Linked DNA regions of Homo sapiens. The protein of the gene in region 4 interacts with the protein of the main gene of each other region in a pairwise test. Each region holds a gene or a part of one and is shown on either strand. Other genes may lie near its edges.

Evidence for each region.
Region 1: the proteins of RBM3 (region 4) and PRR3 interact in binary tests that used the Homo sapiens proteins (3 or more experiments, as listed by UniProt).
Region 2: the proteins of RBM3 (region 4) and KHDRBS2 interact in binary tests that used the Homo sapiens proteins (3 or more experiments, as listed by UniProt).
Region 3: the proteins of RBM3 (region 4) and RBPMS2 interact in binary tests that used the Homo sapiens proteins (3 or more experiments, as listed by UniProt).

The regions. Positions count from the first base shown.
Region 1 is NC_000006.12:30,560,268-30,564,227, forward strand, and holds the end of PRR3 (proline-rich protein 3), read left to right. Parts: intron 1-1,060; coding exon of another isoform or gene 1,061-1,099; exon of another isoform or gene 1,100-1,498; intron 1,499-1,566; coding exon 1,567-1,857; intron 1,858-2,121; coding exon 2,122-2,228; 3' UTR 2,229-3,456; downstream 3,457-3,960.
Region 2 is NC_000006.12:62,276,204-62,283,234, reverse strand, and holds part of KHDRBS2 (KH domain-containing, RNA-binding, signal transduction-associated protein 2), read left to right. Parts: intron 1-7,031. UniProt on the Homo sapiens protein: RNA-binding protein that plays a role in the regulation of alternative splicing and influences mRNA splice site selection and exon inclusion. Binds both poly(A) and poly(U) homopolymers. Phosphorylation by PTK6 inhibits its RNA-binding ability.
Region 3 is NC_000015.10:64,772,576-64,780,167, forward strand, and holds the start of RBPMS2 (RNA-binding protein with multiple splicing 2), read right to left. Parts: upstream 3,015-7,592; 5' UTR 2,745-3,014; coding exon 2,658-2,744; intron 2,169-2,657; exon of another isoform or gene 2,081-2,168; intron 1,877-2,080; exon of another isoform or gene 1,862-1,876; coding exon of another isoform or gene 1,859-1,861; intron 1-1,858.
Region 4 is NC_000023.11:48,569,640-48,577,483, reverse strand, and holds the start of RBM3 (RNA-binding protein 3), read right to left. Parts: upstream 3,001-7,844; 5' UTR 2,911-3,000; intron 2,317-2,910; 5' UTR 2,304-2,316; coding exon 2,201-2,303; intron 1,924-2,200; coding exon 1,817-1,923; intron 1,171-1,816; coding exon 1,065-1,170; intron 977-1,064; coding exon 880-976; intron 459-879; coding exon 398-458; 3' UTR 375-397; intron 20-374; 3' UTR 1-19. UniProt on the Homo sapiens protein: Cold-inducible mRNA binding protein that enhances global protein synthesis at both physiological and mild hypothermic temperatures. Reduces the relative abundance of microRNAs, when overexpressed.

The DNA.
Region 1 (3,960 bases), on a different chromosome or scaffold from region 4:
GGCATGAGAATTGCTTGAACCTGGGAGGCAGAGGTTGCAGTGAGTCGAGATCACGCCACTGCACTCCAGCCTGGATGACAGAGCAAGATTGTCAAAACAAAAAATAAAAATAAAGTCAACTTCAAAGAAACAGTAGAATGATGGTTACCAGAGGCTGGGGGAAGGAAGCTGGAGGAAGGGGAGTTTTGTTTAATGGGTACAGAGTTTCAGTTTTGCAAGATAAAAAACTTTTGGAGGTCGGGCATGGTGGCTCGTGCCTGTAATCCCAGCACTTTGGGAGGCCAAGTCGGGCGGATCATGAGATCAGGAATTCAAGACCAGCCTGGCCAATATGGTAAAACTCCATCTCTACTAAAAATACAAAAATTAGCCAGGCGTGGTGGTGGGCGCCTGTAATCCCAGCTACTTGGGAGGCTGAGGCAGGAGAATCACTTGAACCCAGGAGGCAGAGGTTGCAGTGAGCCAAGATCGCGCCACTGCACTCCAGCCTGGGCGACAGAGCGAGACTCCATCTCAAAAAACAAACAAAAACTTGGAGATCTGTTTCACATCAATATGAATATATGTAACACTACTGAACTGTACACTTAAAAATAGTTAAGATGGTAATTTTTATGTGTTTTTTACCACAATAAAAACCGAACAAAACAAGGCATGATGATTCATGCCTGTAATCCCAGCACTTTAGGAGACCAAGGTGGGAGGATCACTTGAGCCCAAGAGTTCAAGACCAGCCTGGGCAGTGTGGCAAGACCCAATCTCTCATTAAATAAATAATAATAACCAAACAAAAAAATAACCACCACTTTTCACACTCACCATGGCAAAATTTAAAAACCTAACAATTCCAAGTGTTGTCAAGGCTATAGGACAACTGCTGGTGAGAGTGCAAATTGGTATAACCACTGTGAAAAAAAAGTTTGGCATTATGTATGAAACTTGAGCATAACATATACTTTATAAGCCAGTAATACCTCTACTACGTATATATTCAACAGAAATGCATACGTATGTGTAACAACATGTATAAAAATGTTTATAGTGGCATTTCTCGTTATAGCCCCAAACTGGATACCACCCACATGTCCATCATCAGTAGAATGGATAAATAAATTGTTGTGTATGCATGCAATGGGACTACACTGCAACGAAAATGAATGAACTGCTGCTACAGGCAACCTGGATGAATCTCACAAACATGATGTTGAGCGAAAGGAGCCAGACATAAAAGAATGCAGACTGTATGATTCCATTTTTGTGAAGTTCAAAAACAGGCAAAAACTAACCTATGGTGTCAGGATAGTGGTTACCTTTGGGGAGGAGGGTGGGTAATGGGAAAAGGGGCACAAGGGGAGGATCTTTTGAGGTGCTAATAAGGCTTTATCTCTTCACCTGGTGGTGGAAACTCAAGTGTGTCTACTTTGTGAGAACTGGGTTGTGCACTTAAAACTGGTGTGTCTTTATGTATGCTGTTCTTCAATAAAAAAAATTTTTTTAATCACGGTTTATCAGGATTCAGCTGCCCATTAGACACCTTTCTGTGTCTCTCTCTCTCTCTCTCTCCAGCTCTTCACAGAGGTCCTCCAGGATCAAGGGGACCACTGATTCCACCACTGCTGAGTCTCCCACCTCCTCCTTGGGGTAGAGGCCCAATTCGGAGAGGGCTTGGCCCCAGGTCTAGCCCATATGGTCGTGGTTGGTGGGGAGTCAATGCAGAACCTCCTTTTCCGGGGCCAGGCCATGGGGGTCCCACCAGGGGAAGCTTTCACAAGGAACAGAGAAACCCTCGAAGGCTCAAAAGCTGGTCTCTTATCAAGAATACCTGCCCGCCCAAGGATGACCCCCAGGTTATGGAAGGTGAGGTCCATTTTGTTATGCCCATTACTCCCAGAGTGACCTAATTTTCAGAAGATCATTCACAATCTTCTCTGGGCTTTCCTTTTTGCTTTTGAAGCAGAAGTAGACCTCAATGTTATTTCTCCCAGGAGAAAGACTACCATTCCAAAATACCTGGAAATGGTAGGGGGTAGAAAATCAGTTCTCCTTCTGTCTCTGCGTTTCATTGTATTTGTTTTCTTTGTTGCTCAAATTTTTAACTGTTCCATTTTCACTTGTTCACAGACAAATCCGACCGCCCTGTCTGCCGACATTTTGCCAAAAAGGGCCACTGTCGATATGAGGACCTCTGTGCCTTCTACCATCCAGGCGTCAATGGACCTCCTCTGTGAGACTGTGCCTTCCCATCCAGGCTGGAAGGAGCTCTCTGTGACCTAGCGGCCATTTATTTCTCTGTAGCCCTATGATGGCTACTGTGAGGCTCTTCTAACACCCTCAGTCAGTGACACACCCATCCCATCCACCACTTCCCCCGTGTGGGGTCCAGAGTGGTGTTGCATCACTGGTGCGCGGCATACGCGCTTTCTTCTGATCCAGCCTGTAGAGACTCGCCTTTGGGACCCATCTTTGCTTCCTTTCAGTTGCCTCCTGGATCTTCTTTCCCGTCATCAAATGACTGCTGAACAGGAAACCTCTTTGGTGCTGTTTCTTGTGCATCTGTCCACCTGTTCCCCAGTATTGCCCTCAATTCCTGAGAGCCCTGGAGCGGTTTCCTACCATTCCCTTCTTTTAGCTGCTTGTTTTAAGTCCTTTTTATGTGACATTCCCTACCCCCAATGTTGTCAGCTGCTTGTGAAACTCAGCCAGGTTGTCTAACCTGGGGTCAAGTTTGGGTGACTGGTGCAGAGTTACTTCCTAAAAGGCCACTCTCCCTGCCTTTGGATTTCATAGTTTCTCTGTCAGTAGCATGATCCCCACCGCTATGGTCTATCTATGATCACCGTGCTTTGTGAAACTGTGCATCCCCTTGTAGCCTTTCTCAGTGTCCGTGGCATTTTTGTGACTTCCCAGCACTAGAATAAGTTTTCCTGCCAAAATGAGTGAGGCGCTTGGTGCCCTCTGGACTTTCCCACTTCCCAACATGGGAGAATTGTGAACTTTCCATCAGACTGCCTCCCTGGCCCTCCCCATTCTTCTCCTGTTGGTTATTCTGAGTCTGACACAGACCCATGACATGTCTTATAAAGCCTCCAATGGCTTTATCCTACCTAGATCCCTTCCAGCCCATTTTAATTAGACTATGTCATTGTGAGGCCACCAGTCCATTCATTTGAATTCTGTGAATCTCCACCTTGCCTATCTTTGGGTAGAAGCTGGACAGTACTGTTGCCCTCTTCCAATCCTCTTCCCCTACATCCCTGGCACTGGTTGTTTTCTGTGAAAACAGCAGTGAACAGGTTCAGTTTTGAACTGGCCCTGAGGAAATGGGTCAGGAGTTGTATTGGCAAGAGGGAGGGGTGAGAGCTGTTGGAGAACTGAGAATGAGGTTTTTTTTTTTTTTTTCTTTTTAACTTTTTTTATATTAGTAATAAATGCAGTGGAAACCAGCATTTTATTTAATCCCTGTGTTCTAGTCATCTCTGGAGTTGCAGATGAAGCTGTTCTCACCTGGTGGAGTCAGCTTATTCTTTAGTTCATACACACTAGTGATGGGGAATGACAAAGCTTAAGGTTCTTCCAGGCTGAAAAAAACCAATGGAGGTTCCATTAGCCTGTAGGCATCAACCAGAACAAGCTGCCTTATGTTCAAGGGCAAAGTTTTGTAAGAAAAAGGAAAGGCCAGGTGTCCGTGGAGTTATTTTTAAATATTTTACTTTGCAGAGTTTGTGTTTATGGAGTGGTAATGATGAAGGAGTCTTTCAGCAGCAATTTGCAGAATGCCTGTGGGCCAGGCAATATACCAAGCACTAGAGATAACTGACAGCCAAAGCCAATGGATTTAAAATGTACAGGGAAGACAGGTTTCTCATAATCACAAATAGCATGTAAAGTTAAACCTGTCAAAAGTGCTGGGAAGAAGACAGGGAAGAAAAGAGGGTGAAAGAGAGTTGTGTAATAAAGGGA
Region 2 (7,031 bases), on a different chromosome or scaffold from region 4:
AATGATTTCAGTTGATTGTTACTCAGAAGAGTTCTTGAATAATGTAGTTTGAAGTTTGTTTATAATATGCTTAAATAATTAAAATAATGTTCATCCTGCGATTATAATGTTGTTTAGTTATCCACTTGTTATGGTAGGTGCTTTTGAATATGATAAAACAGCAAACTCAGGACTATCCTTAAAGTTCTACTCAGTGTCTGAATTTGGTTGCCAGATGAAATTACATAAGTTTATTTATATCTTTTCTGCTTCTGGGAAGTGCATTAAACTGTGAATCTAGATACCTAGATTTGAATTCCACTTTAACCTCAACTGAATCTGGGTAAGCTTTCTTTCCCTGGGCCCAGTTTCCTTGTCTCTCAAATTAAGGAGTTGGACTAAGTGATGTATATGTTTTTTTGCAATTCTAATTAAGTCTCAGGCTACTGATGATACAACGAAGTGATGTTTGTATATTCGGAACAAAAATTCAATGGCTGCACATTTTTGAAACTTTTTTCATTCTTTCCTAGTTTAATGATTAATAATATATTTATGGCACTAAAATGTAATTTGAGGCATATACTTTATTTTGGGTACTGGGGACAGATTTATGTTCTTAAGTCTATTGAACTACTATTAATGTTTGAGGCCAAAAATGTATATACATGAAAATATTATCTGGAAATATTCTGTGTCTGCTGACAGACATAGATCTGTTCAGATTTATATATTCAGTTATGGTGATTCCATACTCCTAGGAGCATTATAAATTTTTGTCCAATTAAGAGAGGTTTGGGGAAGATTTTCTAGCCTGAAATCTTTGCAAGCACTGAAATAATCATAACCATTTTGGTTGACTCATTATATGACGATGTCAAATATTGCCAAATATTCCAGCAGTTCGAATGGTTTTCAAAAAACTGTAGGCGCTATTTTCAAACTTTAGTAAAAAGTTTGACCTGCCATCTAGACTTGGCCTTTATTTCTGCAGATATAAATGAGATCTTAAAAATATTAAGAAAAGAGGGATTAATACTTACCACACATGCAAACTTGTGAGTTAACTACATTTAGATTATCAATAAGAACCATTTTTTAGTTAGATCGTGTTTCTTAAATATTTTTCATAAAGCTTGATAAGTTTTTTAATTAAGGAAAGTTATTAGTGTCATGTCTAAAACAGCTTCTGGTTAAAAAATAGTGTTCCTGTGACTCTTTAAAGTGACTTTTCTTTTGATTAACGTAATCACCTTTTTCTCCCAATAGACTTGGGATAATCTTATGTTTCTTAAATACAAAACAAACATGGGCAAAAAATTAAATTCAAGTTATCTTTGATCTTCAATTAAGACAATTTATGATATAGTGGAAAATTTCTACTTTGACAAGAAAAACACTTGGGAGTGATTATTGACACTTCTACCTACTGGGAAATAAAGGATGTGTCATTTTTTTTCCACCTCTCTGATACTCAGTTTCTTCATCTATATAACAGGAAAAGTGATACCTACCAGGCAGGGTTCTTTTAAGATGAAAAAACAAAAACAAAAACAAACAAACAAAAAACAACTTCTGCTTGTGATGCTTGTGATAACATAAGCCGTATTTTAAAAATTTATTTTATTTTATTTTTGAGACAGAGCCTTGCGCTGTTGCCCAGGTTAGAGTGAAGTGGTGCGATTTTGGCTCACTGCAACCTCTGCCTCCTGGGTTCAAGCAATTCTCCTGCCTCAGCCTCCCAAGTAGCTGGGATTACAGGTGCGTGCCACCACACCCGGCTAATTTTTGTATTTTTAGTAGAGACTGGATTTCACCATGTTGGCCAGGCTGGTCTCAAACTCCGAATTTTGTGATTGACCTGCCTCATCCTCCCAAAGTGCTAGGATTACAGGCATGAACCACTGTGCCCGGCCAATAATTTTTATGTGTATAACAAAAATATAAGCAGAAATTAAACAAACATAACATGATGATGCACCTCAATTTGAGAAAATAAGTAAAATAAACACTGCCTTACTTTAGATTACTGCTGAGTTACATTTGAACTCATAAAGCAAATTATGAAATAAATTACCTTATGAAAAAGGATTAGATTGAGGGTTTTAAAAATATCATGTTTAGTAAATGATCACTTGTCAGTCTTTAACCATGGGCTTGATTAGCCCTGGTCCTATTTATTTCAAGAGTAATTTCAGACCTATTCAGGCTTCATCTTAAACCCACATGTTCTTCACTCTCAGCAGGTGATTTCATCATCTGTTTTATTGGAGGAAATGGATATCTCTCTTCTGCTATTCCTCAACCTCCTACCACCTAAAAACTTCCATAGCCATCGTCATTGTCTTTCATTCCCAGAAGACCAAATGTTTCTTTTCTTCAGGGTTGACTTGCCATCCATATCCTTGACCCAAATGCTCTTCATCTCTGGACTCATTCTGTAGTTAAATCCTTTATTTGTATCTCCTACTCTTTCTCCCGATCGACTCTTTCTTTATAGCAGCTGTCAACATGATTCAATGTGAATAATTTGAAGAAATAGAATACTTCTTTCACTTGCCACAAATATTGGAAAATAATCTCTCTTGACATTTGTCCTTCCTTGTTTCCTTCAAACTTCTGATAATACTAGTATATACTAGCTGCCTCACTTTCTTAATTTACCTTTTTAGAATTATTCGGTTTGGCTTCTGTCTTCATCACTGTCCTGAAACTGATGACCCTAGTGACAGAATAATCTCATATTGCCAAATTGAGTAAATTTTTTCTGACCCCTTATCAAGTCTCTTGGCTGCACTTTCCACTGTTGACCTTCTTCTGATTTCTTTCCATCTTCCTTGTCTTCTGGGCACTATATTCTACTGGTTTTACTTCCTTTTTTGACCGTTTCTTGCCCTCATCATCCTTCATTTCCCTCCTTCCCACACCAACACACACAATGCTGTCACAGTAATTCATTTAAAGTCTCACCATGTCACACTTCTTAATAATTTCCATTGCCTGCAAGGCGTAGTCCATACCCCTTGACGTTCTTATAATATGCTTACCTCTCCAGAAGCATCTCTTCAGCCTTTCTGCTTAATTTCTCTCAGGTATACCAAACTGCTTATAATTCACTCTCTACACTCCCTTGACATTCCCATACCTATTCACAGAAAGCTAGATATTTTCCCCTCATTCCCATAACGAACGCCTCTAGATCACTATTCAAACTGTTATTTTAGAATGATCAGGTTGTGCCTGTCTCTCTCACTAGAGAAACAGCTCCTCTCTGTCTCCTCTTGAGGAGCAGAACCAAGTCTTTTTCATCACTATATTAGCAGCACTTTTCACAGTGCCTGGTATGTGATGGTGCCAGGTAGAGGCCAAACAGGCTTTTCTCCATCAGATTTGAGAACCAGCCCCCTGTTGGCCCCTCTGCTACCTCTTCCGCATGTGAATAACACTTGCTCTTCTCTCTGTCCTCTCCTATCTCTAAGGTGTTGCACATGCTAAGACCTCACTTTAGAATGCCCTTTCTAGCTTCTCTCCATGATTATAATTTATCTTCATCCAATAAAACTGAGTACTGCTATTCCTTCTTCTAGTAAGCCTTTCATAATGGCTTCTCATCTAATTCATTATAAATTAAGTGCACTTCTGGTTTTATTTTCAACCTATCCACCACTACTACATTGCAACATGCAATTCTTTTTGATCTTGGTTGTCTCCCCCTCTAAGCTTGAGGGCCATACTATGACTTCTGTCTTTGAATTTTTAATGCTTGCCTTCAGTCTTATATGTAGAAGGCCTCAATAAATGTTTCTTAACTGAATGATGCTGACCTCATATCTTCCTTTTTCTCCTACCATGTGTTTAGAAGATATCTCCAGAAACAATTTTTCAGTAATTCTGTCACTTACAATGATAATACTAATTCAGTCATATTTTATCTTTGCATAATTCAAAACCTCAGGAGGCCACTTTGAAAGTTTCCATTTGTTTTTAAGTCAATTTTGAAAAATTATTCATATGCAGGAAGTTGGAAAGATAGTACAGGGAAGTCCTTCTTTACTCTGTGAGGTATCTGAGAATCTGCCCATTTGTTTCTTTGTTGTTTGGATTGAGGCTTTGTGTGTGTCTGCTTTTTATTTATTTTTATTTATTTATTTATTTATTTTTTGAGATGGAGTCTGGCTCTGTCACCCAGGCTGGAGTGCAGTGGCACAATCTCAGCTCACTGCAAGCTCCGCCTCCCGGGTTCAGGCCATTCTCCTGTCTCAGCCTCCTGAGTAGCTGGGACTACAGGCACCCGCCACCACGCCTGGCTAATTTTTTGTATTTTTAGTAGAGACGGGGTTTCACCGTGTTAACCAGGATGGTCTCAATCTCCTGACCTCGTGATCCGCCCACCTCGGCCTCCCAAAGTGCTGGGATTACAGACGTGAGCCACCACGCCTGGCCGTGTCTGCCTTTAATACTTCTGAGTTGCTGGCTTTTCTAGCACTCAGTCTGGCACATACGCGGCACAAAGAAAATCTAAGAAAACCATTGAAATGTCATTCCCGAATCTTGTGGTACTGAGACAATTGGCCTCCTTTTTTCCACTTTCTAGAAAAGAAAGTCTTCTTATGTTTATCTGTAATGTCCCATCCGCATTCATTTATGTGTTTTAATTTATATTTTTATGAAATTTTCTTTTGATTGACTATTAGGCCTTGTACATTAATATTAATATTTCATTGACTAGTTATATAGGAATGAGCATGACCACGATAAATTCATCTAGATAATGGACACAGTAGTATTCTCTATATTTATCTGATTTTAAGGTTTTTTTATGGCCTGGTACCTGAGAATGGGAACATAACTGATCATTATTCTCAGTTTCTCTTTATGTATACAGTCTATAGTGAAGCTGTTTGTTCCCACAGCAGCTGTACAAGGGGAGGAAGTGAGGTTTGGAGGTAGTTTTTAGAAACCCCTGGAAATAACTGTGTAGTATCATCAGCTTTCCTTTTGCACTTATTTGAGCACTGAATTTGATCTTTCTTTTTGGTTTGGCTATATTATGAGAAATATATCTTCATTGGAATTATATTCTGGCATCAGTTTGATTTTTTAAAGCTATAAACCGTGTAATATTTAATATATTTCATAGATCAAAATTTGGTACTATTCCCCACAAACTGCTGAATTCCAATAAAATAAACTGAATTTGGAAATTTTTTTAGAGGTGGAATAACCACTAATAGATGATATTCTACATTAATGTTAGCAAATATCCATATTATATGGCTTCCTCATCTTCTCAAGTGCAGAGTTCTGTAGTGATTGCATCTTTTATTTGCCAAATACTTGTGAGGTCATGGCCAAGCATCCTCTTGCTCCATTGTTATTAACTTTTTTGGAGGAAAGAAGTCATTTTTAGCACATCCTCCATTTGACTCATAACAGTACTTCCAAAAAGATTTTGCAGTATAGAGAGATAATAAACAATCATAAAAGCATTAGGCTATTTACCTTATATTTTAGTTATAGTTTGGAGGATTAATTCCATCAGACTAGTACTCTACTGCATTTGACTACACAATCACATATGCCCTTGAATGTGTGTTGTTAAAAACTGCATATGGGCCGGGCACAGTGGCTCACGCTTGTAATCCCAGCACTTTGGGAGGCCGAGGCAGGTGGATCACAAGGTCAGGAGATCGAGGCCATCCTGCCTAACACGGTGAAACCCCATCTCTACTAAAAATACAAAAAAATTAGCCAGGCGTGGTGGCGGGCGCCTGTAGTCCCAGCTACTCGGGAGGCTGAGGCAGGAGAATGGTGTGAACCCGGGAGGTGGAGGTTGCAGTGAGCCGAGATCACGCCACTGCACTCCAGCTTGGGTGACAGAGCAAGACTCCGTCTCAAAAACAAAACAAAACAAAACAAAAACAACAGAAAAACCCAAAAAACTGCATATGATATGTGCTATTAATAAATGAAGTATCAAATGTTTAATTTATGGGGTTTATAATCTATAGGGGATTCAACTACATATATAGACAGATATTTATATATATACATATATGATATAAATAAGTATATGGAAGGTCTGATAGATTTTACAGAAATTTTAGAGACCACTGATATAGGAATTCAGAGAAAGTCATAACTTCTGTTGTTTATGGTAATGAGAGATTTATCATTATTACCATTATCATCATCTCAACATTTATTGAGTTTACTCTTTGCCAGACACTGTACTAGACGATGCATTACCACAAGTAATCTACCCACCAACCTTATTGTGTAGTTATTAGCATTAGTTTTACAAATTAAACAAATTAAGGCTTAGATAAATTAATTTATATCAGGTCTCACAGCAAAGAAATTGTAAAGTTGAAACCCAGGCCTTTTCACCTAGATGCCACGTGTAACCATTACACCACATTGTCTCCTGTGATAGAGACCCAATGTTAGGCTTTGAAAGAATGTCAGCTATTAGTATGCACATTTTATCTAGAAGATCAATGTTGTTGTTGCCATTAACTTCTAAAATATGTTTCTGAATACAAATATTGGATGAATTATTATATGATATCATAAAATATAAGTATAGCTTATAAAAGTCAAATAAATTTATGAATGGGGGAATTTACCTTAGTATAGAATTGAATTAAGGATCATCAAGACAGCCTACTACATTTTCTGAATGACTTACATTGACTGCTTCTTAGAGAGCTTAGTGATGTGGTGGCAGAGCAGAGGGAACATTTCAGACTTCTTTGGACCCAAAAAGTGATTGGATAATTTTGTGTGGTTTGCTGAGGCATTTTTTTCCCCACATTTTTTAGAGAACTGCTTACATTTGCTGAATTCTTCTAGAAGCAAAGAACAACTGTAGGCCCTCTCTTGGGTCTTGAGGCAGTCAGGGTTTTGTTTAACATTTAGAAGTGAGCAAATTTTACGTTTGATCAGAAACAGAAGACAGTATAGCTTGATTTAAATGTTATCTGTATGTTCTGAGGTATTAGAATTTAATAACTTTGAAACAGATTGGCTGGTGTTATTATACTGTTATC
Region 3 (7,592 bases), on a different chromosome or scaffold from region 4:
AAACTCCAGGTAGTTACCCAAACAAGCCATGTGGTTACACAAACCTACCTCCTCACTTATACATGCGACTCCCTCCTCTTGGAATGCCTTTTCCACCCCCACAGGTCTAACCTTGCTCCTCCTACTCACCCACATCTCAGGGAAGGCTGACCTCTAATCTCTCAGGAGCACCATGGTACCATGTGCTCATATGCCTTTATTTTATCTATCATTGCATTTCACCTACCACCACTTCCTGGCAAGTCCTTCCGACCTCCTAGGCTGAGAATTTTCACTTGTATCCTTAACCCCTGGGTCCAGAAAGAAAACTTAATGCGTATGACATGGATAAAGCCTATAGGTAAGGTAGTCAAGCAGGCAGAGTCAAGGCTATCCAAAGCAGTTCAGGACAAGCAACCTCACTGATAACTCCCAGAACCATGAAAAATACACTCCCTTCGCCAGTGACCCAGCGCCTTTAGGAATTGAGGTCTTACGGCGTGCAGCAGCATTCCTTGGTTTCCTGGGCTTGCTCTCGCTAGTCTCCAAGAGTTGACTGGGAAGAAGCCACCTGTGTCAGCCATGGGAGTAAACCACTGCTAACGCTGATTCTCCAGATGGTTGCTCTTAGGGGCTGCAGAACTGACTGCTTAGGGAGCATCTAAACTACAGGGAGGATTCCAGTTCCAGCCTACACCACCAATCCAAGATGGAGCCACCAGCACAGGGGCTCATGGCCCACTATTCAGAAGACTAGGCCAGGGCTTGGGGAATAACCCTTTCCCTTACCAGACCAGACAGACACTGGGCTCCAGGAGACCCTCAGAACCCTTTGTTCTGGACCTCTGCTAAACGCGAGCCCACCATGCCCTTTTCCAAGTGCGCGGATTTGGAACCACCATAGGGCCGCAGGCCATCTCAACTCCCAAGGAGGAATAGTAGGGATTCCACTTTTTGAGAATCCTGCCCTCTTTCCCAGAAAAGGTACTTAGAAAGGAGTGGCTAAAACCTCAAATGCTTTTTTCAAGACTTAGAATGGCCACATGGGTCACCCTTCTCACCCAACAGCAGTGGGTCTGAGGGTTTGCCCAGTACCAGCCTCTTGGGCAGTGTGAAGTCCCCACTGAAGTAGACCCTTTAGCAGAAGTGGGGTTCTGGGTCCCCATTCAGCTTTATAGGAGACATGCTCTCCCCCAGTTTCAGCCCACAGCAGGGGGCCAAGCAGAGACTCCAAGTACGCTAGCAACCCTGTCACCCTCCCCAACTGTCAAGGGAGATTCTAACAGCCAGGTAGAGTCAGGATGGGGGCAAGATCCCCAAAGCCAAGGGCCTTTTGGCATCAAGGTACAAGGAGGGCAAGGCCTCTGGAGCCCAAACAAATCCACCACACTTAAGTCATTAGTGGACAGATGTCACAGTTGTATATTCTTCCCTTCCCCTTCCGCCAAAAAGTGGAGATCCAAACCTAGATTGTCATCGACTGGGGCTGGCTGAAGGTCTCTGAATAGCCGAGTGGGAGCTGGCGGCGCTGAGCCCAGCCCAGCCGAGGGCCACCGGCGCCATTCTGCACCAACCCCCAGCACAAGGGGAGGAGGCAACACCAGTCCACACCAGGGGCTCTGCGGTTTCTCCCCCAGGCCAAGGGGAAGGGCGCCCAAGGTGGATAACCAGCCCTTGGTTTCCTGGGCGAGAACATGCCAGGGCAGGGGCAGGAAGGCTCTCTCACCCCTAGAATGACGCAGCAGAGGCCAGAGGCCCTGCGAAGCCTGTCCCCTTCTACTCCAGTTCTTGTCTCCGCCAGCCTAGCTCCTCGTCCCTATTCACTGATATCTTTGAGGCTTTTATCCAGCACCCCACCCCGCACACACATCCTCCCTACCATCCATTAACCACCCAGCTGCTGGTGGTTCCACGGAGCCGCCTTACACTCCCTCCCTTTCGCACATGGCCGGTGGACGAGATGATTTCGCCCCTCCTGGCAGGATCCCACCCAGGCCAGCTTTGGGGTCCTGGCTTGGTTGCCAGGACAAACCCAGAGAGAGGAGAAGGACGAACTGAGTGTCTTTAGTCATCTTCCAAACTAATTAAATTGTGGGCTCACCTCTGCCAAAGCCCAGGTTCTGGGGCTGTGAAGAAAGCCCGCCCACCCCCATGACAACAGCTCGCAGGAACCGAGGAGCCGGCCGGCCCAGGCCTCCAAGGTCACGGGGAGGGGGTCAGGGCGGAAAAGGCAGTGGAGTGAGGGTGCCGCCCTCGGGCCGTGCTAATCCCGCTCCGCTCCGTGCCGCCGAGGCGGGGTCCTGGCCACGCAGGAGGTGCGCCTCGGAGGAGGGCGGCGAGCGGCTACGGGGTGGGGAGCAAGGGGCGCGCGGGCGGCAGGCATGGAACGGACGCGGCGCATCTCGCCCACCGCGGGACGCCCGGACGGCGGCCGGCGCGCGCGGCCCGCCTCGAGCCCGAGAGGGCGGGGAGACAATGCCTGTCCGGCGGGGCAGTCCAGGCCGCACGCTCCCGCCCGCGGACACGGGCCGCTCCTACCCGGGCGAGAGGGCAGCGGCGGGAAGGCGCCGGGAGCGATGGCCACCCCGGCCCCGCGAGGCGCGGCAGGCCCCGCTCGCCCTCTCCCGCGCCCGCCTGGCGTGCGCTTCACCCGGCAAGTCCCGGGGCCACAGACCCACCTCCTCCTCCAGGGCGCCGCCGGAGCCCGCGCCGGAGCCGGTGCCGGTGCTGCCGCCGTGCTCGCCGTCCGGCTTCAGGTTGCTCATGGTGCGGGGGAGGGGGCGGCGGGAAGGAACGCGAGGGCGAGCGCGGCGCCGGCCCCGCGGGAAGTGGGAAGGGGCGCGGGGAGCGGTGCGCTCGCGGGTGCGGAGCGGGTGGCGGGGGACCCACGGGGCAGTGAGAGGGGCAGCCTCCGCGTCGGGCCAGGGTCACATCAAGTTTGGCGGGTGCGGAAGGTGGGGAGGGGGTGCGGCGGGGGAGGCAGTGGGAGCCGGAGGGGCCGCCGCCTCCGCCTTTTCACTGCGACCGGCGAGTGCGCCGCGGCGGCGGCGGCGGCGGCAGCGGCGGCGGGGGGCGGGCGCCGGGGGAGGGGGCGGGCGCCGGCGGCGGGGGGCGGGGCCGGAACCGGCCTCAGCTGGGGCCCGGCCAGCCCCCTCCCCCGCCCGCCGCGCGGTCTCCGGGGGAACGCGCAGCCAATCCCCACCGCCCACCGTGGGCTCGCCCCGGCCCCGGCCGCGGGGCGCCGGCCTCCGGCCGGGCCTTTCCCCTCTCTCTCGCCTGGGTCAGCGCTCTCCCTCTCTCCTCTTCCCCCGCGCCCTTCTCCACGGCGAGTTTTTAAACTTTGATGAACTCGCCCGGCGAACTTTCTTAAAGGGGCCGCGCGCTGCGCGCCCCAGCCCGCGGGAGGTGGAGCCCCGTGCCCCGCACCCAGCGCCCCGGTCCCTGGGCGGCCCTGCCCGGGCGGCCTCGCGCTTAGGGCACCCGCAGCGAGGTTTCCGGGCCGTCGACTCCCCTTGTATCTTGATCTAGGGTTTTGGGGTTCCCGACGCACTCATTCTGCCCCTAAATCCAGTCGCGCAGACCTCAGCTCCGGGGGACCGAGTTCTGGGGGTGATGGCCGGGGGGAGGGGGTTGGGAGACACCTGAGCTTTGGCCCGGGCTGGGCGCTGTTTTGCTGAGTGACCTTGAGGAAATCACTTCCCCTCTCTGGCCTCAGGCTCCCAGCCCAGAGGGTGGGACTTAGGATCTCAAACTCCCTTCCCACTCCCAGTCACTATCTGAATAGGACTTAGGTGGGGATTCGAGTGTTGGGACCCCAATGGTCATTAGCGAGGGCTGCCTCGAATGACCAAGAAGGTTCTGTTGCCCACCTTGCCCTCAACACGCCTGGCTTTCGGGTCTTCTCGCTCCTCCCCCGACCTCAGTGCCCCTCACACCTTTCCCTGCCTCCTATTCTGAGCCCGAAGGCTGGGGACGGATGTAATAGCCTAGAGGCTGGGGGAGGTGGGGGAGGTCGTCGTGACTCCCCCCGCACCCCCGCGCAGGTCAGTAGGGCGCGGCCTCTGGGTCGGTTTTCTCTTCTATTTGAAAACCCAGCCGATGGGGGCCCGCCCTGCTGCCACAGTAGAAACCCGCACCCACCTCGGGGAGCGCTGGAAGCGCTGCAGCCTGAATCCGGCAGAGCCGCGGGAGAACTGGGTCCCTCCTCAGTGCCCCTTCTCCTGGACGGGGCGGAGGTTGCGGTGACCCGAGATCTTGCCATTGCACTCCAGCCAGGGCAACAAGAGCGAAACTCCGTCTCAAAAAAAGAAAAGAAAAAAGAAAAGCTGGATTTGCAGTCACGGACTGGTTAGGATCCCAGACCGTGGACAAGTGCCTGAGCCCCCAGAACCTCTGTGTGTCGACCTCCTGAATTAGGTAGGACTAGCACCACAGGATCACTGTGCTGTGGCTTAGTCTTCCCAGTAAATTATAATCTCCATCCTGACCTGCCATCTCACAGATAAATTGAGGCCTAGAGATGGGCAATGTCTTTCCAATGATATACTCATTCCTTTAGTAAATAATTATTGAGCACCTACTGTGGGCTGGGGACCATTTTCTGCTGGTGGCAAGGCCAAGAGCACCCTGGTTTCCCATCAGCCCTGTTGCCAACACTTGGCTCAGGCCCTATGAAGAGGGAGCTGCTGCCTGTAGGAGCCAGACCTTTACCCAGAGTTTTTAAGATGCCTCCAGCCTCAGGCATCTCCAGATAGAACCAACCTTGGGAACCCTCAGATACCCCTACCATCCTCCACAGGCCTCAGTCCAATCTGGCTGTGGGCTTGATCACCATCCCCTCCCCTAGAATAGGTCTTCCTATCAGGTTTGTCTCTAACTTTGGCCCAGGAATACTCTTCCTCTTCCTCTTCCTCCCCCGCTCCCCCTAATCAATCCAAAATCTTCCCTTCCCTCAAGATCCTGCCTTTCCCATGCTTTTTCCAGGAGAAGGAGCCTGGCCAGATTTCTGAACTCAGCCATTATATGGTTAATTTGAATTTTTCAAAGAAGAGCCTCTCATCTTGTAATTCTGGTCACCCTTCTTCTCCATTCTGGTCTCTGTTTTCTCCATAGATGGGAGAGCTAAGGCCCAAAAAGGTGACAAATGACACAGGGGCCACAACTGACCCCCATCACTACATTTCTTTTCTTTTTTCATTTTTTTTTTTTTTGTTTTGGGGGCTTTTTTGAGATGCAGTCTTGCTCTGTTGCCAGACTGGAGTGCAGTGATGCGATCTCGGCTCACTGCAACCTCCACCTCCCAGTTTCAAGCTATTCTGCCTCAGCCTCCTGAGTAGCTGGGACTACAGGAACGCACAACCACGCCCAGCTAACTTTTGTATTTTTAGTAGAGACGGTTTCCCCATGTTGGTGAGGATGATCTTGATCTCTTGACCTTGTAATCTGCCCCCATCAGCCTCCCAAAGTGCTGAGATTACAGGCGTGAGCCACCGCGCCCGGCCTTCTTTTCTTTTTTTAGAAAAAAGATCTTGCTCTGTCACCCAAGCTGGAGTGCAGTGGCACAATCACAGCTCACTCCAGCCTTGAACTCCTGGGCTCAAGTGATCCTTCTACCTCAGCCTCCCAGGTAGCTGTGATTACAGGTGCAACACCACGCCCAGCTAATTTTTTTTTTTTTTTTTTAAGAGACTGGCCTCTCATTATGTTGTCCCAAGCTGGTGTTGAACTCCTGGGCTCAAGTGATCCTCCCACCTTGGCCTCCCAAAGTGCTGGTATTATAGGCGTGAGCCACCACACCCAGCCTGTATTTCTTCTTAAGTTCTTCATAATTTGTAGTAAATGCTTACCCCTTATTAGACTGCCATTACTTATTTAACCTGTCTCTTGTTAGATATTTGTATTATTTCCAGTTTATTTTCTCTTTTGCCTTCATAGGCAAACTTTATATGAGGATTCTTTTTTTTTTCTTTTTCTTTGAGACGGAGTCTCACTATGTCACCAGGCTTGAGTGCAGTGCATCCTCCATCTCCCAGGTTCGAGCAGTTCTCGTGCCTCAGCCTCCTGAGTAGCTGGGATTACAGGTGCCTGCCACCACACTCGCTGTCACACCTGGCTAATTTTTGTATTTTTAGTAGGGACAAGGTTTCACCGTGTTGGCCAGGCTGGTCTTGAACTCCTGGCCTCAAGTAATCTGCTCACCTTGGCCTCTCAAAGTGCTGAGATTACAGGCATGAGCCCGCCCTCTTATATGAGCATTCTTAATGCCTCAGAAAGTTTCCTGTATGTGTGACCAGCCCTTAAGCACTTTGGAGGCAACAACTGTCTTTTCCCTCTCTGTGCACCCCTATGGCCCCTGAAATGGCAGAATCTCCAATCTCACATGGATTTGGAGATCATATAAACACAAAGCTCCCACCCAGCCCGCACCTTCATGAGTAGTCAGGCGTACCCATTGGTGCTGACCAGAAGCTGATGTGAAAGAGGCTAGAGAGAGGAGTTTGGGGTGTACAACTCTTTCAGACATCTGAAGGGTAGGAACTTATATCTCTGTCTCCCCAGCTATGACCTAGTAGTGTAGCCTCTAGTAATCTCTTCAGTGCCCCAGGCCTCCCCCACTGTCATGCTCCATATCACCTCTGAGCTTCTCGAATTTCTATTCCTTTTGTCTGGAATCCTCCCATCCTCACTCTCCACCCCCAGCTTCCAGACCTTTCCCAGTACCCATTCTCTCTCCCCTGTGCTCTCAGAGTGCCTTCTCTGTGTCGTGTTGAACCTGGGAATACCTTGTTTTGAAGTCTCACCTACCACATGGGAAGCTTTCTGACTCCAAGGAGTGGCTGTAAACCCTGCTGAGTGAGTAGAACTCCTTAACCTCTGCAGCCCCCTGGCCTCCAGCAAGGAGCAGATGATGGTGGGCATTTTCAGTAGTAGGTGTTTAATAAACCTTTGCTGAACCAATACTGGGCTATTCCTGGAGCTTCTGGGCTATCTGAAGCCAATGGCCCTTTCTCTTTGATGTACTGTACATACATCATCCTTCAATATTTCATCCTTAGGGTAGGGAAAAGAGATGGCCTCACTCCTGGGAAACACTGCCCTGGAACTCAACTCCTGAGAGTGTGCCTGGCTACTTCAGGGCAGGCCCCCATTCTGACCCCAACTTTCCCACCACCAGGAAAGCCTAGGCAATAAGAAGGCAGATAGAAGCTGGGCTTGGTGGTGTGCGCCTATAGTCCCTGCCACTTTGGAGGCTGAGCTGGGAGGATTAATTGAGCCCATCAAGTCTAGATGGGGCAACATAGCAAGATCCCCTCTTTATTTAAAAGAAAAAGAAGAAAGGCAGGTAGAGAGGATGACCTTGAAGCTTAAAGGCTGAGATGTGTCTGAGTTATATTTTCTTTTTCTTTATTTTTTTGGGGGGAAGTCAGGGTCTTGCCCTGTCACCCAGGCTGGAATGTAGTAGCACAGTCTTGGCTCATTGCAACCTTCACCTCCTGGGTTCAAGCGATTCTCCCACCTCAGCCTCCCAAGTAGGTGGGAATACAGGATCCCCCCACCAGGCCCAGCTAACTTTCCCTAGCAGGGTTTCACCATGTTGGCCAGGCTGGTTTCGA
Region 4 (7,844 bases):
GAAATTATTCCTTGTGTATCTGGGAACAGCAAGAGGGGGAGAATTGTGATGTCATGAAGTAACAGCTGACAACATGCTCACCTCCTAGAGCTGATGAAGATGCTGAGGGTTGGACAACAGGGACACACCTTCATTTCCTCCATCCCACACAAGAGTAGAAGATTATAGGAGATGGGTTTTCAGATCCCACCCCCTAGCAAACTTGCTCTGATATGCACCTGAGAGCAAGGAAGGCCTAGCTAGGAATGTTTGGTAGGTTGGCTGGGTGAGGTATGAGGGCAGCAGAAATGCAGAGCAGTCTTGCCAGAAAAGGTGAGAGGGTCATGACAGAGTGTGACAAACAGGTTCACTCAATGCCGATATCCAAGTCTCACCTATATTATGTGCATGTCTCATTTCAGTTGTCATAATTGTCTCTGTAATTTCCTCCTGAGTAGCGGTCATAACCACCCTGGTTTCTGGGGGGGAAAAAAAACACACAAAAGTTTTCTGGTACTGCATTATATATACCACTGTAATTATATGCGTCACATTTTACAGTATGGGTCATAACATAAACCTTACGTATCAAAAACAGGATATGTTAAGCATATGAGTATCACAGTAAACAGTTTTATGGCATACGATTTATACGCAGTATATTAAATCATATTACATGTTAAAGCAATATAGTTATATAACCCACACAGCACAACATATATAGTATACTTTACCATGTCGCAACTATATGACTACACAATTAACTTAAAATGCTAAATTTCATACTCATTTTAGGTACACATTAGTAACAGCAAGGTGTGGTATGCATGAACACCCAGGCGCTGAGTTCTTAAGGAGAGGGAAGCAATAGGAGAACATCCCAGCCCTTTGGCTACCCACCTGCCATTATAGTCTCTGGAACGTCCATATCCATATCCATACCCTCCAGGTCGACTGTCATAATACCTGCCACTCCCATAGCCCTGGTCCCCACCACCTAGAGCAGAAAAATATTTAAATGGCAGTTGTCCACACATAGGCAACTCTCCCTCTCACCCCATGATCAAAACGATCACTGCACTCACCTCTAGAGTAGCTGCGACCACGCCCATGGGCCCCAAAGCCACCTCCTCTGGTTCCCCGAGCAGACTTGCCTGCATGATCCACACGGATCTGACGACCATCCAGAGACTAAGTGTGGGAGACACAAGGATGATGGGTTGGCAGTCAGTCAGGGCAATGGTGAGGGAAGAGCAGGCAAGGGTAAGTGGGCAAAAGAGGCCAAAAATTCCTGCTGGGCACCAGGTTCTGGGTGCCATGTTCCAGAATAAGCTCCTTTACCCCAGAATGGCTTCATCAGGAGCTATAGAATCCCACACAAAATGACCTGAATGCACCATGTTCCCCTTGCTACTACTTACATCTTGACTGAACTCAGGCTGAGTTCTCCTCCCCACTCCTCTAAGCTGCCCGACTATCAGGGCTAGACAGACACCTCTCTTGGTTTGAGGCTTCAGAGTCCATGTCAGAAGACTCACGAGGTCCTCTCCGGGCCAGGCCCACAGGTCTGCAGACTCTACTACCTAAGCCCAAGGCAGGTCAACCATCCACAGGTGGCTTCTCGGCCTCATGCAGGACCAGTCGTCGCCTCCCAGGCGGCCAGGCTCTGTCTGCCGCTGCCCTCCACCCCCTAGAACAAAAGGCAGTCATGCTCCTGTGAGTGGGCACTGCGGGGCTTGGTGGCCACGCTGCCCCGAGCAGACACAGAGGGAAAAACAAAAAGAATGAAGGAAGCCGCAGATGGGGACAAGGTCCCTCTGCAGATAGGAGGCCCCACCTCTCCGTTCATGGCTCTCATGGCAACTGAAGCATGCTCTGGGTTGGTGAAGGTGATGAAACCAAAACCCCTGGACCGCTGAGTCTCCCGGTCCTTGACAACGACCACTGTGAGAGGGAGAGAAGATGGAGCAATGTGGACCAGTCAGTACCCCAAAGGTTAAGTAGCAAAGGGTGGCCGGAAAAGGAGATGGCATAGGTAGGGAAAACGGAGCGCTCCCACTAATCCCAAAGACGCTTCCCCTCATCCTTAGTCTACACCATAGGCTTAGGAAGAAAAAGAATTTGGAGGCGTGGGTCCTAACTTTTCAGTTAATACTCCTTGAAATGCAAGGATCCCAGACTTTCTCTCACCAACCCCCATTGTGAGTATGGCCCGTCTCACCCTCAGAGATAGGTCCGAAACTGCTGAAGTGGTCTTCCAGTGCCTGCTCGTCGGTGTTAAAGTTGAGCCCTCCCACGAAGAGCTTTCCTTCTTCAGAGGACATGGCAGTTCAAGTCCTGTGGGAAGAACATGAAGAATGGTGGCAGGAAGGAGAAAGAAAATGGAGATGTGAGAAAATAGCGAGACGGAAAGCAGAGAAAAAGCACAGAAAATAGACAAGAAAGAGGAACAAAATATGGGTAACTACAGAAAAGCTGAGAAAGGCGGCCAATAAGGTGGTAATCTGAGGAGCTGGCTCAGCGCAGCCACCATTAGGGGGCCACATTGCGCATGCTCTCACATTCATAGCCGCCACGCCCGTCATTTTGTGCCACTGCGCAAGCCCAGAACATCCCTGCGTTCCCTTAACGCCGGCAGAACAAGATGGCGGCGGCCACGTGGGATAAGGAAAGTAAGTGTCGGCTGTCGCGTGGTCACTGCCACCACCGACGCCACCAGTCCCTCCCGGTAGGCCTCACACTCAGATACAGCGCGCCGGCCTCCCACCAACCGAAATGTTTCACCTCCAAGCACGGGACCCGCCCGTCCCAGAGAAAGCCAAGCCTACGTGTCAGTGGCCATTACTCTCCCCACTCGCTATTCCCCGGTCACGGCCGGCGCGGCGCGTGTGTGGCGAGGAGCCGCCGTTTCGCAGGACATATGCAACTTACCTGGAAATTAAAACGTAAAAAACCCGGACGAACAGCGAGCTCGGAGGAGCACAAAAAACAGGGACGGGGCTGCGCCGGAAGACGATTGATAAAGAGTACGTAGCGAGAACGTCCCGGAACGTTCCCCTTGCGCGTCCCGGCGTGCGTGCTGATTGGCTGAGGCCAGCAGGAGCGGAGTGGTGGGGAGAGGAAGGGACAGCAAAGCGAAGGGAGCAGTGTTCTCCGCGAAATGGGGTGTTTCCGGAAATGGGGTGTTTCCGGAAATGGGGTCGACTTTTGAACAGCTGGTGCACCCTAAACGTCAGCATCCCCCCCACAACCGGCTGAGCTGCCTTTATCCCTTCCACAAAGGAACCTTCTCAATCTCATACTACTTGCTGTCCCTGACATCATCCTCCCGTCCTTGCCATCATTTCCCCCGCTGGATCGGATGTCTTCCTCACCATCGTAGTCGTCTTCCTCTAGGTCCCTGCCATTCTCTGATGTTAACCTCCTTCACCTTCTAGTTCTTTAACCTCATACCCTTTAAAGGCCTGACATTTTATCCCCCACCGTCACTGATGTCATCACCCTTCACAGTCCATGATGTCAGACCCAACGTTTTAAGGTTTGACCCTGACTCCTACTCTTTCTCCTCTGTGCTCAACATCTAGCCGCCTGTCATGGGACCCTTTTCCCTGGCGTCATTCCATCTCATCTCTGACTTCAGCCCTCACCCTTGTCTGACTGCTGGCGTGAAGCCAGCCCCTTAATTTTCTCACCAATAGACTGCCTGAGATGGCTTTTACAAAACAGGATGCTGGCCGGGCGCGGTGGCTCACGCCTGTATTCCCAGCACTTTGGGAGGCCAAAGCGGGCGGTTCACGAGTTCAGGAGTTCGAGACCTGCATGGCCAACATGGTGAAACCCCATCTCTACTAAAAATACAAAAAAAAAAAAAAAAAAAAAAAAAGAAAAAAAAAATTAGCTGGGTGTGGTGGCACGTGCCTGTAGTCCCACCTACTCGGGAGGCTGAGGCTGGAAAATCGCTTGAACCCGGGAGGCGGAGGTTGCAGTGAGCCGAGACCACGCCATTGCACTCCAGCCTGGGTGAAAACAAAACAAAACAAAAGAGGATGCTACGATCTTCAGAGGTTGTAAATCCCAATCCATAGAGCAATTTTTGCTCTCTTCGAAAGTAACTGAGCCCTTGCCGGGCGCAGTGGCTCATGCCTGTAATCCCAGCACTTTGGGAGGCCGAAGTGGGCAGATCACAAGGTCAGGAGTTCAAGACTACCCTGGCCAATATGGTGAAACCCTGTCTCTACTAACAATACAAAAAAAAAAAAAAATTAGCCGGGCGTGGTGGTAGGCACCTGTAGTCCCAGCTACTCAGGAGGCTGAGGCGGGATAATCGCTTGAACCCGGGAGGTGGAGGTTGCAGTGAGCTGAGATCATGCCACTGCACTCCAGCTTGGGCGACAGAGCAAGACTCAGTCTCAAAAAAAAAAAAAAAGTAACTGAGCCCTTGATTCACAGAAGGGACTTTCGCAATACACAATAGACTTATCCCAATCAAGTAGTGTCTGAGCCCACTGTTCACAATTTAGTCTTCAGTGTCTTGGCCACCTTTACAATAAATGGATTTGACAGATTTTTCACTTCTGAGCGCCACATCAACGAAGAATAAGTTAGTTTGCCCTCAGAGGCTAAATTTCTTATCCATAGAATGAATTTGCCCAACACAGACCAAATTTGCTAACATACAGAATACAGTACATCCATATTCCTGTTGGGGTAATTCCCATATTTATCTTCCTGTTATTGTCAGGGATTCCTCACATAGTCTAATTATTAATCCCTTAGGTGTTGGAAATAGCCTCTCCAGCTCTGGCATTTGTGTTATTAACTTTGTAAGCAGTAAACTTAGTTGAATAAAGATCCATAATTTTGATATAATCATTTTTCCCCCTATGTTCTGTGCTTTTTTCTGAGACGGAGTCTCACTCTGTCGCTCAGGCTGGAGTGCAGTGGCATGATCTCAGCTCACTGCAACCTCCGCCTCCCAGGTTCAAGTGATTCTCCTGCTTTAGTCTCCTGAGTAGCTGGGATTACGGGCATGTGCCACTATGCCCAGCTAATTTTTGTATTTTTAGTAGAGATGAGGTTTCACCATGTTGTTCAGGCTGTTCTCAAACTCCTGACTTCATGATCCGCCTGCCTCGGCCTCCCAAAGTGCTGGGATTACAGGCGTGAGCCACCACGCCCGGCCTGGTCTGTGCTTTTAAAGAAATCATTCTCTTTCCCAGGTCACAAAATGTTCCCCTACAGTTTCTTTCTTTCTTTCTTTTTTTTTTTTTTTGACAGAGTTTCGCTCTTGTTGCCCAGGCTGGAGTGCAATGGCACTATCTCGGCTCACTGCAACCTCCGCCTCCTGGGTTCAAGCAATTCTCCTGCCTCAGCCTGCTGCGTAGCTAGGATTACAGGTGTGTGCCACCACACCTGGCTAATTTTTGCATTTTTAGTAGAGACAGGTTTTTGCCATGTTGGCCAGGCTGGTCTTGAACTCCTGGCCTCAAGTGATTCGCCTGCCTCGGCCTCCCAAAGTGCTGGGATTACAGGCATGAGCCACCGCACCCGGCCACATTTAGGTCTTTAATCCATGTAGAGTTCGTCCTTGTATATGGTGTGAGATAGAGCTCCAATTTTATTTTTCTCTGTGTCATGAGCCAGATGCCCCATCACCATCTATTAAGCAATCTGTCCCATCCCTGTGTGTGTTTTACCACCTCTATCATGTATCAAGTTCCATAGATATATGGGTCTGTCTCTGAGGTGGTTTGTTGCTGGTTTTGTTGTTATTGTTGTTTTTAAGAGATGAGCCCAGGCTGACTCCTGGCCTCAAGCATTCTCCCCAACTCAGCCTCCTGAGTAACTGGGATTACAGGGGAGCACTATTGTACCTGACTTCTGAGCTTTTTTTTTTTTTTTGACAGAGTCTCACTCTGTCGCCAGGCTGGAGTGCAGTGGCGCGATCTTGGCTCACTGCAACCTCCGCCTCCTGGGTTCAAGTGATTTTCCTGCCTCAGCCTCCTGAGTAGCTGGGACTACAGGCGCGTGCAACCACGCCCAGCTAATTTTTGTATTTTTAGTAGAGATGGGGTTTCACCATGTTGGCCAGGATGGTCTTTTTTTTTGAGACGGAGTCTCGCTCTGTCGCTCAGGCTGGAGTGCAGTGGCGCGATCTCGGCTCACTGTAAGCTCTGCCTTCCAGGTTCACGCCTCAGCCTCCCGAGTAGCTGGGACTACAGGCGCCTGCTACCGCACCCAGCCAATTTTTTTTTTTTGTATTTTTTAGTAGAGGCGGGGTTTCACCGTGGTCTGGATCTCCTGACCTTGTGATCTGCCCACCTCGGCCTCCAAAAGTGCTGGTATTACAGGTGTGAGCCACCGTGCCCGGCCTTCTCTTCTAATTGGTCTACTTCTTAGCTCTTGGGCCAATATAGGTTTGTTGTTGTTTTTTTTTTCCCTTTTATTACTAACACCTTTAATATGTCTTAATATCTAGTGGGCAAATCCCCATCATAACGCTTTCTTTGAAGGCTGTCTTAACTGTCCATGATTCATTACTATTCTAAATTCTAATGTAAGTGTATTGCAGTTCTAACAAAAAGAAGTAATGAGGTCAGGCATGGTGGCTCTCGCCCAAATCCCAGCTACCTGGGAGGCTGAGGCAGGAGGATCGCTTGAACCCAGGAGTTGGAGTCTGCAGTGAGCTATGATCGTGCCACTGCACTCCAGCCTGGGCAACAAAGTGAGACCCTGTTTCAAAACATTAAAAAAAAAAGTAATGGAAGTGTTATTGAGAGTGCATTGAATTTTTACATTTTGGGAGAAATAACGTCTTTTTTTTTGAGATGGAGTTTCGCTCTTGTTGCCCAGGCTGGAGTAAAATGGTGCAATCTCGGCTCACTGCAACCTCCGCCTCCCGGGTTCAAGCAATTCTCCTGCTTCAGCCTCCTGGGTAGCTGGAACTACAGGCACCCACCATTATGCTCGGCTAATTTTGTATTTTTAGCAGAGACGGGGTTTGTCTATGTTGGTCAGGCTGGTCTCAAACTCCTGACCTCAGGTGATCCACCCACCTCGGCCTCCCAAAGTGCTGGGATTACAGGTGTGAGCCACCATGCCCGGCCAAAATAACATCTTAATAATATTAACTGTGGAGGTTTTAAGATATGGTCACACTCTGATACTGTACTCGTCAAGAGTTGGAGCCTAACTTCCTTCCACTTGCATGTGTGCTGGACTTAGTGACTCAATTGTAAAGCACAGAATGAGGTGGAAGTGATAGTGTGTCATTTCCAAGACCAGGCTGTAAAAGGCACATCTGCTTCATGCTCTCTGTCACACAGACTGCTCATTATGTGGGACATTAGCTGGTATGTCATGAGCAGCCCTATGGAGGGATCTAGGTGGCAAGAAAGTAAGGCCTCTTGCCAACAGCCATGTGAGCAAGCCTTCTTAAAGGTGGATCCCAGCCTTCAGATAACTGCAGTCCTGGCCAACATCCTGATTGTAGCCTCATGAGAGGCTCTGAGTCAGAACCACCCAGTTAAGCCACTCTCAGAATCCTGACTCTCCAAAACCATGTGAAATAATAAATGTGTATTGTTTTAGCCACTAAGTTTTGGGATAATTTGTTAAAAATAACTTATATATTACCAAAATCTTTCCAGCAAAGAGCATAAAATGTCTCTCTTTTATTCAGATCAATTTCTATTGTTAGAGTTTAAATTCTTTAAAATAGAGGTCTCTTGTATTAAATTCATTCCTACTTTTTTTTTTTGTTGGTTATTGCTGCTATACAGAAATGCTTTTGATTTTTACAGGTTGATGTTGATTTTGTATTGGGAAACCTTGCTGAACCCCTTTTTTTTTTTTTAAGATGGAGT